Regions from separate parts of the Homo sapiens genome. Here region 1 is linked to region 2. Evidence: fine-mapped expression QTL. A gene starts in region 2. The other region holds a variant in brackets. All regions are shown on one strand. Distances are from middle to middle. Region 1 has its middle 80 kb from the start of FOXQ1. Region 2 holds the start of FOXQ1 (forkhead box Q1).

Region 1 (8,327 bases), 80 kb before region 2:
TGGCCGAGCGCCTGAGGGTTGCACCACCTACAATATCATCATTGTGTAATCCAGTCCTCCCTCTGTCAGCACAACAGCACAATCTAGAATCACCGATTTCCAAATCACAATGTAATCACACTGTAATCTATGTGTTTAAGAAAGGAGAAGCCACACACATACAAACACGATCACACACCATTTCCTTGAAGTCACCAGAACGGCAACATCTAGAACAAATAACCTCCTCTGGGAAGGTTCATTTCTCCACGGTTAACCATTGATGGGCTGGCGTGATCCCTTTAAACATGGGTCGCCAGAACTCAAAGCCCACAATCAAGGGTTTATCTAGGAGATAGTATTCCACAGCACCTGCTCAAAAAGGACAGATTGCCTGGAGCGCTACAGGCTAGCAAGGTAAACTTACGAGTGGGTGGCCTCCTTCAACAAAGAAACTGCACTTCTGCCCTTCTTAATGCCTGGAGTTAATTCCATCCTCAGATTTCATTTGAACTCACAATTCTGGCACTGAGGATCAAAGCCTGCAGACACCATTATCGAGTGGATTTAGATATTCAGCAAATGCACCCTTTCCCTGTCTCACACCTTTACCTGCTGGTGAGTTGGATGGTCCCATTGGAACCCAGCTCTTTCCAAGGTTGAGCAAGAGAAAAAGAGGCTTCAAAACCAGTGGTCTCCTGCCCGGTTAATGAACCACTCTTCAAAGAGCTGTGTGGGAAGCAAGCTTATACGCTGAAGCAATGCCTCAGATGATCTGTGACCTCTGCGTAGCTTGCCCTCCACCTCCCCATTATGACAGCTAGCTAATGGTTTTCTGAATATTTCCAGCCTGGAATTCCCCAACTTTCTTGAGGATAGTAGAGCCCCAGAGGCAACAATTGCAGGGCACGGAGCAGAATTTTTTGCATCACCTCTCAGTGAAGTTTCAAGAGACATGTTTTTCCCAAGTGCACTCAACGCCGACGCCTATCCAAACTCCTCACTCTCTCACAGGGCTCTCAGGGCAGGACGGCGTACCCCCTCTGCCCCAGCCAGTTCTCCTTACCTGAGCACCCATCCTCTCTTCCTTTCTTTCCCTTCGTGAGAACGAGGAGGTTGGAATGGCGAAAATGTTTTCTATGCCAAACAATTCTGAGCAGAAAGAGGACCTTTTCCTCTGAAGCTGTGATTGATCTGAAGGAGGCTAACTTCATTGGAGAGCAGTGGGTTCCAATTTGTCACCAGATTACAAGCAAGGGTGTTTCTCCTTTCTCTCATTTCATCAGTTAACAATTCATCAACATGTGTTTATTGGCACCTGCTATAACTCTAGCTCTGTGCTATGGATTTCAGGTGGCAAAATACATGGAAGACATTGACTCTTTCAATAAGATGGACTGCCCACTATGTGCCAGGCACTGAACACGCAAAGACGAACCAGTCTCAACCCCTGCGGATGAGGAGCTCAGCCTAATGGGAAAGGCAGGTATGTAGACCAAGGTTTCCCAGCCTCGGCTCTGTTGGCACCTGGGGCCAGATGGGCCTGTGTGTGGGGCTGTCCTGTGCGTGGTAAGATGTCTTCAGCATCCTTTACACGCACCCATGGGAGCATGGCACCCACCTCTCCCCAAGTTGTGACAACCAAAAATGTCTACAGATGTTGCCAAATGTTTTCTGAAGAACAAAATCGCTACTCTCCCCTGTACTGAGAAACACTGATATAGACAAATATGTACAATATAGTGTAATAAGTATAGTAGTGGAGTTATATACAAACTGTGGTTGCTGCACAAAAGACAATGTAAACATCTTTGCCTAGGAAGGGATCAGAGGAGGTGAGACTTGAACAGAGCCTTGAGGGAAAGAGTGGGGACTCAAGGGGTACACAAGAAAGGGCAGGGGTGACATCAGGTGGAAAAGTGGTGTGCAGAAAGGCGAGAAGACCCAAAACTGCAGGAAACTGCAAGCACCTGAGCAAGATCCAAGCTGAGAGCATGAGAGAAGGCGAGTGGACGAGGGAGCCAGGAGGGGAGCGGCAGCCAGGACACCGAGGCCTCGGCACCCGCACAAAAGGGTTTGGCCTCTCTTTGTAGAAGATGGGCACACGGGATGTTTTCAGCAGGACCTGATGTGAAGAATCATTTTTACTTTTTTCATTTCACTGAGAAAAAGATATTGCCTTGCTCTAAGGAACACTGAAATCTAGCATAAAAAAAAAAGACACACAGGAAACGTTACCAAACAGGCAGCCACATCTCTTACAGATACAATAAAGAGAACGGGAAGAATCGTCACTACTGGTGTTTATAAAAAACAGTGTGCAATTCTTCTTGTGAATAATATTGCTGTCTGTATTATTGTTTTAAATAAAGAAACCTCTAATTTCTTCATTGAACATTCACCAGGCTGGGAATCTTTCCAAGTCGGGCACTGGGTCTGGCTTATCTCTGTGCCCAACAGCTGGTAGGGAGCATGGCACGTTGCAGAACCTGGGTGAGTATTATGGGATGAATGATGTTCCAGACCAGGGGTCAACAGACTTTTTTGTAAAGGGCCAGATCACAAATACTTTTGCCTTCGTAGGTCAGGTGGTCTCTGCCCTACCCCCTCAACCGTGCCCTCCTAGTGCAACTGCAGTCACAGTCTATGTCTAAATGAATGAGCGTGGCCGTACTCCTGTAGAAATTTATTTATAAAAAGAGGAGGCAGGCTGCATTTGACCAGAAGATCATAGTTTGCCAGCTTCTGTTGCAGACAAACGTGTTCTCAATGAGTTAAAGAGGAGACGTTATTCAGAGTATTTATCCCAAAGTAAACATCCCCAACAAACACTGGGAAGACAGCCTCTTGGTCCTAAGTTCATGTTATTTGTCTCCTCTTACAGATAGAGGTACTCACTTGCTCTAATAAACTCAAAGTAATAGAGTGCTAGAAACAAAGAGGTCTAAGTTAACTCCTTCCTTTTACTGCTAAGGAAACTAAATCCCCATAATCTAGAGTGCCTTGCCCAAAATTCTGTGGCTGTCTTCCTCTGATGCCACAAATCTGGGGAAGAAAACTTAAACCCATTGCATCTAGGTGCAGAATTCCCTGCTTATGCACTGCCTCACTCTTGTGGGGGGCTGAGTGAGCCAGGCTTTCACCACGGAAGGGTGATACTCCAGGACTGGCAATGAGAAATTCACTAAGCCACACTCAGGTGGGATATTTGGCAATGCAGTCCTATGTTGCATCACATCCAGTCAGGTTGCAGAGCCAGCAGTGTCCACATTGGCTACGTCCAGGGAAGCACTTAACACCAAAGCCAGAGCTGTTCCAGGGTTCCAAAACACGCCAAAAGAAACGAAATCCATAGCATTTGATTTAGCAGAGAACACAAAGCACGCAATAGTCACTTTTACTTGGATTCACTGATGAGGAGGGCTTGAACACCAAGGTCTTGATAGTGGTATTCCTTCCAATAACGTTGTACCCAAGCCCCAGCTGAGAGACCTTTAAAGATCTATTTCCTGTTGATTTGGGGGAGAATTCCCAAAGTGCTATAATTTGGTTCCCAGTGCACAGCAAACTCTGTAGCTCAATACAAGTTAAGAGATTGTCTGAACCTCTGAGGCACTTAAAGCTTTCCATAGGAGTCAAGATCGGGCACCTGTATTTCTTATGCTTCACCAGTGAAAAGACCAGGGCAATGGGAGCTCGCACAGACAGTGGCTTCCCCAGGTCCTCCACGGGCCCCACACTTCTTTCCTCCCTGAGCCTGTCACTGCACAAATTAGGTACATGTTATGGTTGGAGAAAAGTGTGTTATTTTTTATCAGTTTA[C/A]TTTGGTTTTAATCTTGAGGTGCTTCCCATTCCAAGGTTCTAAAATAACTAAACAGACGTGAAAAATTGCAGAAATGGCATTTCCAATGGAAAACACAGTAGGATTGTAGGAATGTGGTGTGAAAATGGTTTTTGAAACAGTTCTGGAGTCAGGAAGCCAGAGTTAGAAAGTGCCAGCAAGGTAAAACCCCAGGCACATTGTACAACAGAACAATAGAAGGCGATTTCTTCCTGTCTCCTATCAACAACACTTGATTCGCTGATACACACCACCCCTCTCCTTAATGCCTTGGTTAACAAACCAACACACCCATCTTACATAAACTGCCTTACTCAAACCTACACACCCCAAATTTACACTCGAGTGAGAGATTCTCGTTAGCTGTTTAGAACAAGTCAGCACAATTACTCACATTTTGACTCAAAAGATTCTTCATGCTCAGATGACTTCTTCAAAATGGGATGGAAGAAATACCACAAAAGGCTGCTTGTGGCATTTGAATGCTGGAGGCTGCTTGGATACATTAGGACAGATACACCTATTTTTTGAAAGTGCTAAATCATTAATTAATTTGGCCCCAAGAGATTCACAACTGTATTTTATTTTAAGATCTACCTGATACACACCAGAACACATTTCTTTCCTCTCATACAGTTTTTGGGATACATAAAAATGAACTCTATTTCCAACAGGCAGAATTTAGACTGTCAGGATTCATCATGTCTTACCCACATGTCACCCACCCGCCTCTCCCTTACAAAAAATACCCTGGTTGTTCTATGTATACCAGTGGTTTTCAATAGGTAGTGCAATTTTGCCTCCCAGAAAGAACCCCATCAAGGGGACATCTGGCAATGTCTACAGACATTTTGGGTCATCACAGTTGAAGGAAGGGGTGCTCCTGGCACTCAGTGGATAGAGGATAGGGATGTTCTAAACATCCTACAGTGCACAGGACAGTCCCCACTGTAAACATGCAGCCTGCCCCGATGTCACCAGTGTGGACATTGGTAAACCCTGACTTACATGTATGGCTGTTATGAACCACACTGTGTAACTGCTCAAAAACTGGGGGCAGCTGTAGGCTGCATTCACAGCGTCCACCTACCCTGAGAGAGTCCATGTTGTTCATGGATATAGGATTTGCTTCCCACCTTGGGAGAGAGGAGACCCTCGGCTGCCTGGGGATATGAAAGGAGAGGACACCGGGCTGGGAAGACTCTCTGGGTCCATGCAGGGCGTTGATGGTTCTAGGTAGCTGGATTTTACTCCAAAGTCTGCCTGGATTCAGGGCCAACTTTCCAACAGAAGCATGGCGTTGGCCTTTCTCTTAGGAAAGACTATTGAAGATGTGAATGAGAAAAACGTTGGTGATTGAAGGACATCTACCTTCGGGATCTTATGAAATCCGAGTACTATTTTAAATTCTGAAAGAGGCACACTAAGTTTCCTTGGGGCCAAAAAGTTAATATAAAATATGAAATAAAAGGCAGTAACTGTGTACACTGGTGGGTTCTTTCTGCACACAGGAAGTCATGTCTAAGGTTAGGGTCTTGTCTGAGCACTGGGTCTTCAATGTTCTAATTTAAAAGTATAATTGAGCCAGGCGCAGTGTAATCCTAGCACTTTGGGAGGCTGAGGCAGTGGGATCACCTGAGGTCAGGAGTTTGAGACCAGCCTGGCTAACATGGCGAAACCCTGTCTCTACTGAAAACACAAAAAAATTAGCTGGATGTGGTGGTGCACACTTTAATCCCAGCTACTTGGGAGGCTGGGGCAGGAGAATCGCTTGGACCCAGGAGGCGGAGGTTGCAGTGAGCCCAGATCGCGCCACTGCACTCCAATCTGGGTGACAGAGGAAGACTCCATCTCAAAAAAAAAAAAAAAAAAAGTATAATTGTATAAATTTCCAATTATACCATTACAATGTACAATGGTAATTGTAAAAGTAATGCATCCCTAGGGTGAGGTTGGAGAAGGGACTCTAGGTAGAAGTACACGGAAAGGTTCAAGGACCAAAAGTGTTCCACACCCTGGAAGCAGGAGAACTACAGGCATGTCTATGTGTGGGCAGGAAGAAGCCAGAGGAGGCTGTCGGGGGACCGGGAGGACCTCGCCTGCCGGCATCTCCCTGACCCAGGCACATCTGCCTGTTCTTTTGAATAGTCCTCATTCTCAGTCTTTCTTCTAAGTGCGCTGACTGTGGCTCTGTGGACTCATCAGCTTCTTCCACCAACACAAAATGCAATCAACGCATCAGGATTCATGTCGCAGACTCACCCAAAGCCACCTGGGGCTTTCTAACTTTCTTCATCCGTCTAAGCTTCTGTCGCCTCTTAATCACGCTGGTGTGATTTGGTCACCTCTTAATCCCTTTGGGACACGAAGATAGTTCTCCCTGATAGAGAGCAGGCTTTCTCCCGTCTCCTGTTAGCAACACATCCTCTGTGATGTCAGAGGCCTGGCCCATCCTCACTCTTCTCGTTGCTCCACCGGTAGATTTGGAAAACCCCTTTATACCCAGCCGTGCCTCTTTCAGCAGCCTCGCTGCCTGGGAAACTTAGCCTTCCCGGCACTCCCCTGCAGCCTGTGCCTCTCCAGGCTCTGTCTCTGGTGATGTGCATCCTCTCCCACATTACAGGTTCTTTTTCTATCAAAGCCCATCAGAAAGTTCCCAGTCTGCCCCCTTGGGCTTCTTTGCACCTCTGAGAGCACAGGTCCTTGGCCATTTAGCCAAGGGACATGGCTTCTAGCCTCTGAGCTCCTCCCCAGCTCTTCACCCCAACGCCTCCCCACCTCCTTGAAGGTCTGATGGTCAAAATCTACACCTGACAAGGCCCCAGCCAGCCATCACCATCCATCTCAAAAGCCATATACTTCCTTCCATTTGCAGTGTCTTCTTTGAGGCATCTGGAACCTCAATGACCAGAGGGGAAGGAGAATCCAGGAAAGAAAGGAGGTGCACAAGCTACAGAGGAACCGGGGTTGGGAGTGAGGGAGGTACCCAGCACCCAGTGACACCCAGATGGAGAGTGAGGGAGGTACCCAGCACCCAGTGACACCCGGATGGGGAGTGAAGGAGGTACCCAGCACCCAGTGACGCCCGGATAGGGAGTGAGGGAGGTACCCAGCACCCAGTGACGCCCGGATAGGGAGTGAGGGAGGTACCCAGCACCCAGTGACGCCCGGATGGGGAGTGAGGGAGGTACCCAGCACCCAGTGACGCCCGGATGGGGAGTGAGGGAGGTACCCAGCACCCAGTGACGCCCGGATGGGGAGTGAGGGAGGTACCCAGCACCCAGTGACGCCCGGATGGGGAGTGAGGGAGGTACCCAGCACCCAGTGACGCCCGGATGGGGAGTGAGGGAGGTACCCAGCACCCAGTGACGCCCGGATGGGGAGTGAGGGAGGTACCCAGCACCCAGTGACGCCCGGATGGGGAGTGAGGGAGGTACCCAGCACCCAGTGACGCCAGGACGGGCAGTGAGGGAGGTACTCAGCACCCAGTGATGCCTGGACATAGTTCAATCCAGCATCAATGCCCAAGGAGGGGCAGTGGGCAGGAGAGAGGCGGCCACAGCATTCTGTAGTTCTAGGAAATGGTTCTAGGAAATGACACCACTGCAATCCCCCTCAGTGTGGAGGGTGGTCTTAGGACCCACTGAGGAGCATCTCTGTGTCCCATGGGGAGGGACCAATGAAGAGAGCAAAAGTTATCATTTGTGGGGGTCCTAGCCAAGCAGACTGAGTTTCCAGGTAGGACTCCAGGCCTGGAGTTTCAATCAGCTGTCTTAGATATTATTATTAGTAAAGAAGAGAAAACAACTAGCTAGCTGACACTAACAGGGAAAGGCACTCCCAATATCCTTTAATATCCTTCTGACTTCCTGAGACAGTTTGGTCCCAGAGATGCCTAAGTCTGTAGTCCCTGCATATCCCTGAATGAGGCTCAGTCACCTCAGCAGCCTTAACTGAAAATGCAGCACCTTCCTCCATTCCAAAAATGAAAGTGTTTAGACCAGAACCTACACTCTTAGAAAACATTAGGAACGTTTCCATGGGTCACCGGGAGAAGTCAGGCTAAGCAGCGCCGTCTGCCTGCTCCCTCTCTGCTCCCTATGTCCCATGAGCTCTTTTGCATGCAGAAATGGGCACATGTGCAAAGAAAGCACACAGCTGCACAGTCACACACATCCACTTCTGGGGAATACTGGCAGAAGCTGGCTCATGCTGCAGGCACTGGGGAAGCAGCCTGGGGCTTTCTTAGAGCACGCATCAGCCTCCAGCTGCACTGGGGGTTCTGAGTCTACACACCTTCTCCCTGCCTTGTCCAGCACTGGGTCAGGCACTATGGAGTCAAAACCTAGAAAGTGAACAGCATCCACACCATTGCCTGTGCAGGCAAGGATACAAAAGGAGGGAGGCCCCGAGCCTCCAGCACAATGTGGTGTCTGCCTCCTTAGAATCATGATGTACTGTTTCCCAAGCAGCACTGTGAGAAGCACAGGTACCCTGTGGCATGTTA
Region 2 (8,327 bases):
ACTTCAGGCACAGCCCTTGGTTTTGCACCTGGTCAGTAATGCCCAGCCAAATTCTAAGATTCTTGGATTAAACCATGCCCATTGCTCAAGAAACCGAAAGAAGACTGTTCAAACAAACATGGTAAATGTACAAACAAATGAGCCTGACCCTATTAAAACATTTTTGGAAAGAAGCAAAAATACAGACACGTAAAAATGCCTAAGTTTTCTCCGTCTACTTCCACACTCACCTTCAATCCTTGCAGGATTTTTCCAGTGTTCAGCATCTACCAAAAGAATCAACCAGACCATGAAATGGGCTAGAACAGAGTTGGACAAAGCACTCCTTTTCTTCCCATGTATTTTCACTATGAGGAAAGGTAAAGAGGCAGCTGGGCTTTATCGCTGTAGAGGCCCTTCACTGCCACCTGACCTCGAGCCCCAAGTCAGGGCCCTCTCCATGCCCCTAGGGAGACTCTGCAAGGATTCAGAGCCATGCATTTTGCCCTGGGACTCTCAACATTAGCCTGGTCTCTAAGCCTGAGGCTCTTCAGTTCTTCACAGCATTGTACTGTAGATTCATCCAGAGTCCCAGGTCCCCATGGGAAGGTAATTTTAAGTTTACCCTCTCTTCAGATCCAGAGGTTAACACGACAAGAAATTCAAAGCTGTTTCCAGGTTGCTGGGTGGATGTGATCAAGATTGTTCTGTAGTCCCTTTGGGCTGGGAGCCTGCGTGATCTTCTAATGCATAGGGCAAGTCATCAATATTTCCACAGGGAGTCACCTTAGGTATTTTAGGAATTAAATTATTTTCTTCCCAAGATTAGTGTTTAGGAACTGGGTCAGTGAAGCACTATCAAATTATGGAAAGCGTTAAATTTGCAGATAGTTTCCACAGTTAATTAAGTTACTTTGTGCCCAGAGATACATGCACTATCTTCCTAAAATCACCACTTCAGGGAGGTCATACGATCATGGAAATATGAACTTATCTTTTGCCATAGTTTATTCACTTATCTCCATGGAAATTAAAGGGCAAGGGGGAAAATAAGCTAATAGGTGTTTCTTACCTACAAGTGTTTGGTCAAGCTCCACCTGCAGGCATTTTTTATTAACCCATCAATGTACTCCCCAAGGAATGGGAATTAAGGGGCAGAAATATCCAAGCACTTCTGGGAAACTTTAAAAAAATGCATGTGACGTCTGGCAGCGTCTGGTCTCCCCAACTGTATTCAGCCTTGAGGGTGTTGTGGATAGACACGCCCTGCTCCATACATTCTCGGTTTCTCTGATAGCTGCAAAAGGTGAATGATTTCCCCGCTGTAAAACAACAGCTAAAATTGATACCGACATCAACCACAAATGGAAAAAGCAGTGTTATTTCTGGTTTTAACAGAAGACAATCATGTTATCCTCAGCAAATGGCACATTCATGTGTCAAGGATAGGGGAATACAGTCATGAAGAAAAAAAGAAAAAAACCCTGCTCTAGTGGAGCTTCCATTCTAGCTGAGGTAGGGTTTTTTTTTGTTTGTTTGCTTGTTTTTGTTTTGTTTTAATCCTATCCAGGTGGTCCACGGCCTGCCATGCCATCTTCCTTCTCAAAGTCCACTTAGGTGGCTGCAAGCAACCTCTCACCTGCCCATTCCCTAAGTCACTCTAAAAATAGCAAAGGGTTTCCAGCTGAGAATTCACCCACCTCCAACTCACTCTCTTGCCCCCCAACCTTTTCAGGCTCCAAACTTGCAGACAGCAGCCCACAGGATAGACATAAAAGGTGGGGCAGGTCCTTGCCCCCCTTGCCCCAAATGAAATCAGGGTAAGGAGAGGATCCCCTGCAGCTGGGGAGGGGAGGAGGTTGGGTAAGAAAGGGGGAAAGTGGGACATGGAGGTGGGGTGAGCCACCTTCCCTGGCGGCGACCAGCATTCCTTGGTGGCAGGACACCTTGGCCCTGGAGTCTCGAAGAGGCCTCCCTTGGACTCTGTAGCGACCACGGGTCCCACCTCAAGCCTCCTTGGCTTTACCTTCCCCATCAAATAGTCATGTGCCCTCCTGCCCTGCCCAACCCCAGAGTTCAAGAGAGAAAAACATTCATTACGAACGCCTTTTATCCCTGGCCAAATCCAAGCCTCTTTACCTCGCTATATATATATAGATATACATATTTGTCTCATCCCACTTCCCTCTCCAGGTCTAGTGAACCATCAACTCCAAGGCTAGAGCTGAGCAGACCCCTCCAGAAAGGCTCATCTCCCAAAAAGCAGCCATTCCCCACCTGGCTCCCGAGGCGCATACTTAATAAAGTCAGTCTAATCTCCGAACGCGATCCTTCCCCAAATACAAAAATAACAGAGCTGTGGCTGGGGCTGTCATGTTGCCCGCCCCATTGTGAATGGCTTCAAAACTCCCTGAATAAAGATAAGAGAGGATTGTGTACGTTTTCAACACAAATGGTGGAAAGTAATAAAATAAACATCAAAGGTGAGCTCCCACCTACTAGCGGCTCCGTCGCTTTTTGTGCAACAAAGGCAGGAAAAAGGAGGAAACTCGGCGTGGCAGGGCAGCGGGCTGGAAGTGCACCTTCCCGGGGCCGAGGCGCCCGCTCCCTGGACTAATGACGCCGCGTGGGGATCACGCCCCGGGCGCCCTGGGGTGAGGAACGGTCCCCCCTTTCGAGATTGTCCGACACTGGTGCCAGTGAGGTCACAGCAAAAGTCCCAAAGGAATATTGGAAAGAAATGGCCGTGAACCGGTTTGTTCTTGCCCCCGCCCCCGGGAACACGCCCTCTCCGTCGTTCCTGTTGACTGTCAGATCCCGGGAACCAAGCGGCGGAGCTCGGCGGCATCTGAGGCTTCCGCAGGGACACAAGTGCAGGCACAGCCCAGCACCCTGCGCCAGACACAGCCGCCCCAGGGGAAGAGGAGGACGCTGCTGTCCTCCCGCAGGAGTCACCAGCCAGGTAAAGAAAAAGGTAAAGTAAGACAAAGAAAAGTGAAAGTCGGAGCCCATTTAGTGAGCAAGAGTAAAGGTCATCCAAAAAGGCGCATACAATTTCAAGCCCAGGAGTGCATTCATTAAAACAAGAGGAAAAGACAAGATGGTCCTTGAAAGGAGCTCATAGGAAGGGGCACAGCACAAGGCTCCCGAAAGAGGTCACTGCAAGTGTCCTGCGCAATTTCTGTTCAGCACCTCTGCAGTGACGACAGGGGTTTGCTTTCGTAAGCAGCATCGTTTTCACTACTACAGAAGCACATACGCCGCGTGCAGCTTAGGCCCGAGCAAAGTCCCTGCTCCCCTAGACCCAGTCCCTTCAGGTGTCCCCCTAGGGGAACTGTGGCGTGTCCCCCCAACCAGGCGCACTCGCCTAAACTGCGTCCCCGAACTCCAGGGCGCAGGGAGCCCTCGCGGGCTGCCCGGGGCTGGGGCCCACACCTGAACGGAGGAGCCGGCTGGCGGAGCGGCCCCGCGCGCGCACACACGCACACTCACAGACACGCGCAAACCCACAGCGGCGCGCGCGCTCCCCATTGGCGGGAGGAGGAAGGCGGGGCCGGCCGACCCAAAACAAACAACCTGCGCCAGCGACTTTGCCGCCGCGCTGCAGTGTGGCCTCCGCCTGGTGCGCGCCCGTTGGGGAGCTGGGGAACTGGGGAGCCGCCACCACCTCGGCCACCTCGTTCCCCCACCCCTTGCCGTCCGCGCTCAGGCCCCGCCCCCGCGGAGCCGCCGCAGGGTTATATTGGGCCGGCCCGAAGGTGGAGGCGAGACGCAGCCGCGGCAGGCCAGCGGGGAGATGCTGCCCCGGAGGCTGGGAGCGGGAAGGCGGCTGCGGGCGCAGCGGCCTCGGGGACTCGCCTCCGCGGGTGCTCAAGGCTGAAGGCGCCGGACCTTCCCCCACGGTGGCACGCACATCATCCGGCACCATTTCCGTGCCCCGAAGACGCCCGCGCGGGACCTGGGACCGCCAGTGAAGAACCCCTCCTGGGCTCTTTAACGAGCAGCAGATGCGCATGCTGCTTCTCTCCGGCAGGAAAGCCTTCTAAGCCCGGCGTGCTCGGGCACCCGAGGGTGGAACCGCGGCCCCTGCACACACTCACCCCAAAGTCTCAACGTCGAACCGAAGGCGACACCCACCCAACTCCTCCCTCTCCGCCCCATAGTCCACCCAACACTTGCAGCCCCTCCAGAGAAAAAGCCCAGCGGAAGAGGACTCCGGAAAAGTGACTATCTCGGAAGACCAGGGTAGAGCTCCCGGGAGAAAAAGGCGAAGATCCCCGGCCCCGGATCGCCATCCCCTTCCCTGGCACCAGCTTCTCTAGGCTGCGCGAAGGAAGAGGGTACGACGCCGGGGAGGGACTGGGTGCGCGGGCATGAAGTTGGAGGTGTTCGTCCCTCGCGCGGCCCACGGGGACAAGCAGGGCAGTGACCTGGAGGGCGCGGGCGGCAGCGACGCGCCGTCCCCGCTGTCGGCGGCGGGAGACGACTCCCTGGGCTCAGATGGGGACTGCGCGGCCAACAGCCCGGCCGCGGGCGGCGGCGCCAGAGATACGCAGGGCGACGGCGAACAGAGTGCGGGAGGCGGGCCGGGCGCGGAGGAGGCGATCCCGGCAGCAGCTGCTGCAGCGGTGGTGGCGGAGGGCGCGGAGGCCGGGGCGGCGGGGCCAGGCGCGGGCGGCGCGGGGAGCGGCGAGGGTGCACGCAGCAAGCCATATACGCGGCGGCCCAAGCCCCCCTACTCGTACATCGCGCTCATCGCCATGGCCATCCGCGACTCGGCGGGCGGGCGCTTGACGCTGGCGGAGATCAACGAGTACCTCATGGGCAAGTTCCCCTTTTTCCGCGGCAGCTACACGGGCTGGCGCAACTCCGTGCGCCACAACCTTTCGCTCAACGACTGCTTCGTCAAGGTGCTGCGCGACCCCTCGCGGCCCTGGGGCAAGGACAACTACTGGATGCTCAACCCCAACAGCGAGTACACCTTCGCCGACGGGGTCTTCCGCCGCCGCCGCAAGCGCCTCAGCCACCGCGCGCCGGTCCCCGCGCCCGGGCTGCGGCCCGAGGAGGCCCCGGGCCTCCCCGCCGCCCCGCCGCCCGCGCCCGCCGCCCCGGCCTCGCCCCGCATGCGCTCGCCCGCCCGCCAGGAGGAGCGCGCCAGCCCCGCGGGCAAGTTCTCCAGCTCCTTCGCCATCGACAGCATCCTGCGCAAGCCCTTCCGCAGCCGCCGCCTCAGGGACACGGCCCCCGGGACGACGCTTCAGTGGGGCGCCGCGCCCTGCCCGCCGCTGCCCGCGTTCCCCGCGCTCCTCCCCGCGGCGCCCTGCAGGGCCCTGCTGCCGCTCTGCGCGTACGGCGCGGGCGAGCCGGCGCGGCTGGGCGCGCGCGAGGCCGAGGTGCCACCGACCGCGCCGCCCCTCCTGCTTGCACCTCTCCCGGCGGCGGCCCCCGCCAAGCCACTCCGAGGCCCGGCGGCCGGCGGCGCGCACCTGTACTGCCCCCTGCGGCTGCCCGCAGCCCTGCAGGCGGCCTCAGTCCGCCGCCCTGGCCCGCACCTGCCGTACCCGGTGGAGACGCTCCTAGCCTGAGTAGCGCCGCGGGGCCCGGGAACGCCGAGTGCGCGCCGTCGGGGAGGCGGGAACGCGGGCCCGCGCGCGGACTTTGCACTTTGAATCCAGAGGAAGATGAATTTTTAAAATCTCCATCAAACGTGCCTTAAAGCTAAAGCATTTTGACAGGAGTATTTAAACTTAGTCCAGGATATTTTCCTTTGTGTTTTATAACTTTACAGAGGACCAAAGCAATTCTTGTTTTAGTTTCTTTGCGAAGCCTGCTCCTCCTTCCCTTCATAAGGACTTTTTTTGTCTTTCTTTAACGCCCAGGCTTCGTCTTATTTCTACTGTTTTTGTCGCAACTTCCATTGATTTATGTCCCTTCCCTCCCCCCTAAGTACATCAGGGAACCTTTCCACACTATAAATGATATGACTACTGTTTGGGGTTTCTGGGCCCCCATCCGTGTACGTATGTGGCATTTCCAGGTATGACTGAGTGTGAGAGACATGTCAGAGGCTCTTCAGTGATTTCTTGCTATTGACCGATGCTTCACTGTGCCAAAAGAGAAAAAAAATGTTGGGTTTTGTAATTAAATTATTTATATATTTTTGAAACCCGAATTGAAAATGTTGCAGGCAACGGGCTACAGCTTTATTAGTGGTTCTCTAACTGTGGTCTCCTTGGGCCAAGCAATTTCTTTAAAGGAAAAGTTGATTATGTATGTGGGGTGCCAGGACCACTGCCTTGAAAGCAAGTGTGATTTTTATTTTTAATATTATTTTATTTGTGTCTGTGTACATATTCATGTATAAATTTTATGAAACCCAAGCATAGTGCTTATTTTTTAATAAAACAACTGACTTAACACATTGTGATGATGGGTTGGAAGTGGAGAGATTTTTATGTCTGTCCCCCCTCCCAAAAAAATGGGCTCAGGTTTTGGTCTCAAGAAACTTCCTCTGGAGATAAAAATATTTTCCTGAATAATTCGATAAAGGTATTATAGAATGGGCTTGCAGATTTCCGTATGAGATGCATTGCTAGACAGATTTCCAGATAGGACTTCCATTCATGGGCTTTTTAAAAGTTGAAAACCAATTACTCCTCTAATTAGTCACCTAAGTGCTTCCAGAACAAATGAGAGGGAAGTGTCCCTCTCTCCCCCAAGAATCCTTAGCAGGCAAGTTGAGTTCTTAACAAGCCTAGAGTCAAACAGATATTTTCAGGTAAATTGGTTTCGATTTGGGGCTCAAAAAGTTGGAGCCCCAATTTTTTTGACAACTTTTTTGTCATAAGACTATCTTAAAATATCAAAGGTGTCTTCAGGGCAATTTCAAAAGCAATTTAAATGTCATAGTGTTTTTGTCAAAACAAAACCATCCACCTTTTTAGGAATGCAAAAGTTCAACTGGGTGTGAACCAATGGGTAGTATTTTTTTCACTCTTCCCTCATCTGTAAAGATTTCACTTGAAGCAGTGGCAATGTCTTGCATGTTTCAGTTGCAGTCTGAAGAGAAAATGCCTCCTGGAGAGAGGGAGAGACAGTTTCCCATATTATAAATGTAACGGAGGATTTTCATCAGTGGGAGTACCAGGGTGAACACCTGTTCTTCAGTAGGTTCCTAGGCAATACAGTTTTAACAATGCATGGATTGCAAAATTTTAGAGAGTAATACAAACTGTGGGAAATGCAGAGACTAGAAACAGGCCTCATTGCCATGGCTGCCATTCTTGGGTAGATCCCATCTTACCCAGGACAGGAGGATGATTTGAGCTCTACATATAATGAGGTGGGGAAGGAGGGTGGCGTTTATTTCAGGATGCTCTCTTTTGGCAGGAATGGGAGAGAAACAATCTTCCCTAAATCAGGTTAACAGATGATGAGTCTTGACTGATTTGGATGACATCTACTTAGTAATCATAAAGAGTGATAATAATAGGGTTGAATTACGGCAAGAGGTAGACATTTGCACCCACAGGGCCAATAATCCGACCCCAAAATAAACCTGAAACAGACCAGCAACTAGGGGCAGGGGACAACAGGTTCCCTGGGTAGAAATGATCAGACCTCAACATGTTGCTTCCCTCTTCAAAACACATGGAGGAGAGAATGCGGGAGAGCAGGGAGTCAGCCAGCTCTGTCCTTCCCACCTCTGGTTCCAGGGGACCTTGTCTCTCCCACAGTGTGCCTCACCCACAGAGGCAAAGTGCAGCCTACTTGAACATCTTTTTTGTAAAGCCACTGTTTTCTTGTCTGCACTGATACGTGAAGACAGTCCTGCGAAGGGAGATTTAAAGTCGCTTCTGATTTATTCGTGTTAACACACAAACAGCAAAGTGAAAGACAAAGGTAGTGTTCCAAAAATCCCGGCTGTTCCGCCCTCCCCTCAAAAGAAAAAATAAATCCTTCCTTGCTAATGAACACCCTGGAGTCTGGTAGGATGCTGTCCCCTCCTAGCTTCTGGTCCCCTTCTTTGTTTCCCCAGGGACTATAAGCGTTTCTAAAAAATTGTCAGAGTCGCTTGAGTTTTGCACCCCTATTTCATGACCATTTCCAAGCTCAGTATCCCACGACTAGAAGGACATCACACTGGGCGGGCGGGGCGGGGGCATTGGAGGGTCCTGGGCTGTCGCCTCCTCCCTGTCCCTCCTTCACACACCCAGCCCCGGGGAGTTTCGGTTTCTCAGTGCTGGGTCGGAGGCAGCCCAGGAGGAAAGGCGACGGCACAGCTCCCGTTTTCTCAATGAAGGCAGAAAGCTGCACAGCTGCTTTTAGTTCAGGCGAAGCTGGAATTC

What was found. PIP is the estimated chance that this variant, and not a neighbour inherited with it, causes the effect.
Region 1: its variant is fine-mapped to the expression of FOXQ1 in thyroid (GTEx, PIP above 0.99).

What each region holds. Positions count from the first base shown.
Region 1 is chr6:1,227,985-1,236,311 of GRCh38, forward strand. No RefSeq gene overlaps it. Among named protein-coding and RNA genes, the nearest start is that of FOXQ1, 80 kb to the right of the region's middle. The variant C/A (reference allele first, on the strand shown) is at 3,802.
Region 2 is chr6:1,308,353-1,316,679 of GRCh38, forward strand. It overlaps FOXQ1 (forkhead box Q1), which reads left to right and starts at 3,746. Exons shown (of 1, transcript NM_033260.4): 1 at 3,746-6,406. The coding sequence starts at 4,353. The coding sequence ends at 5,564. RefSeq lists an enhancer at 4,200-4,916.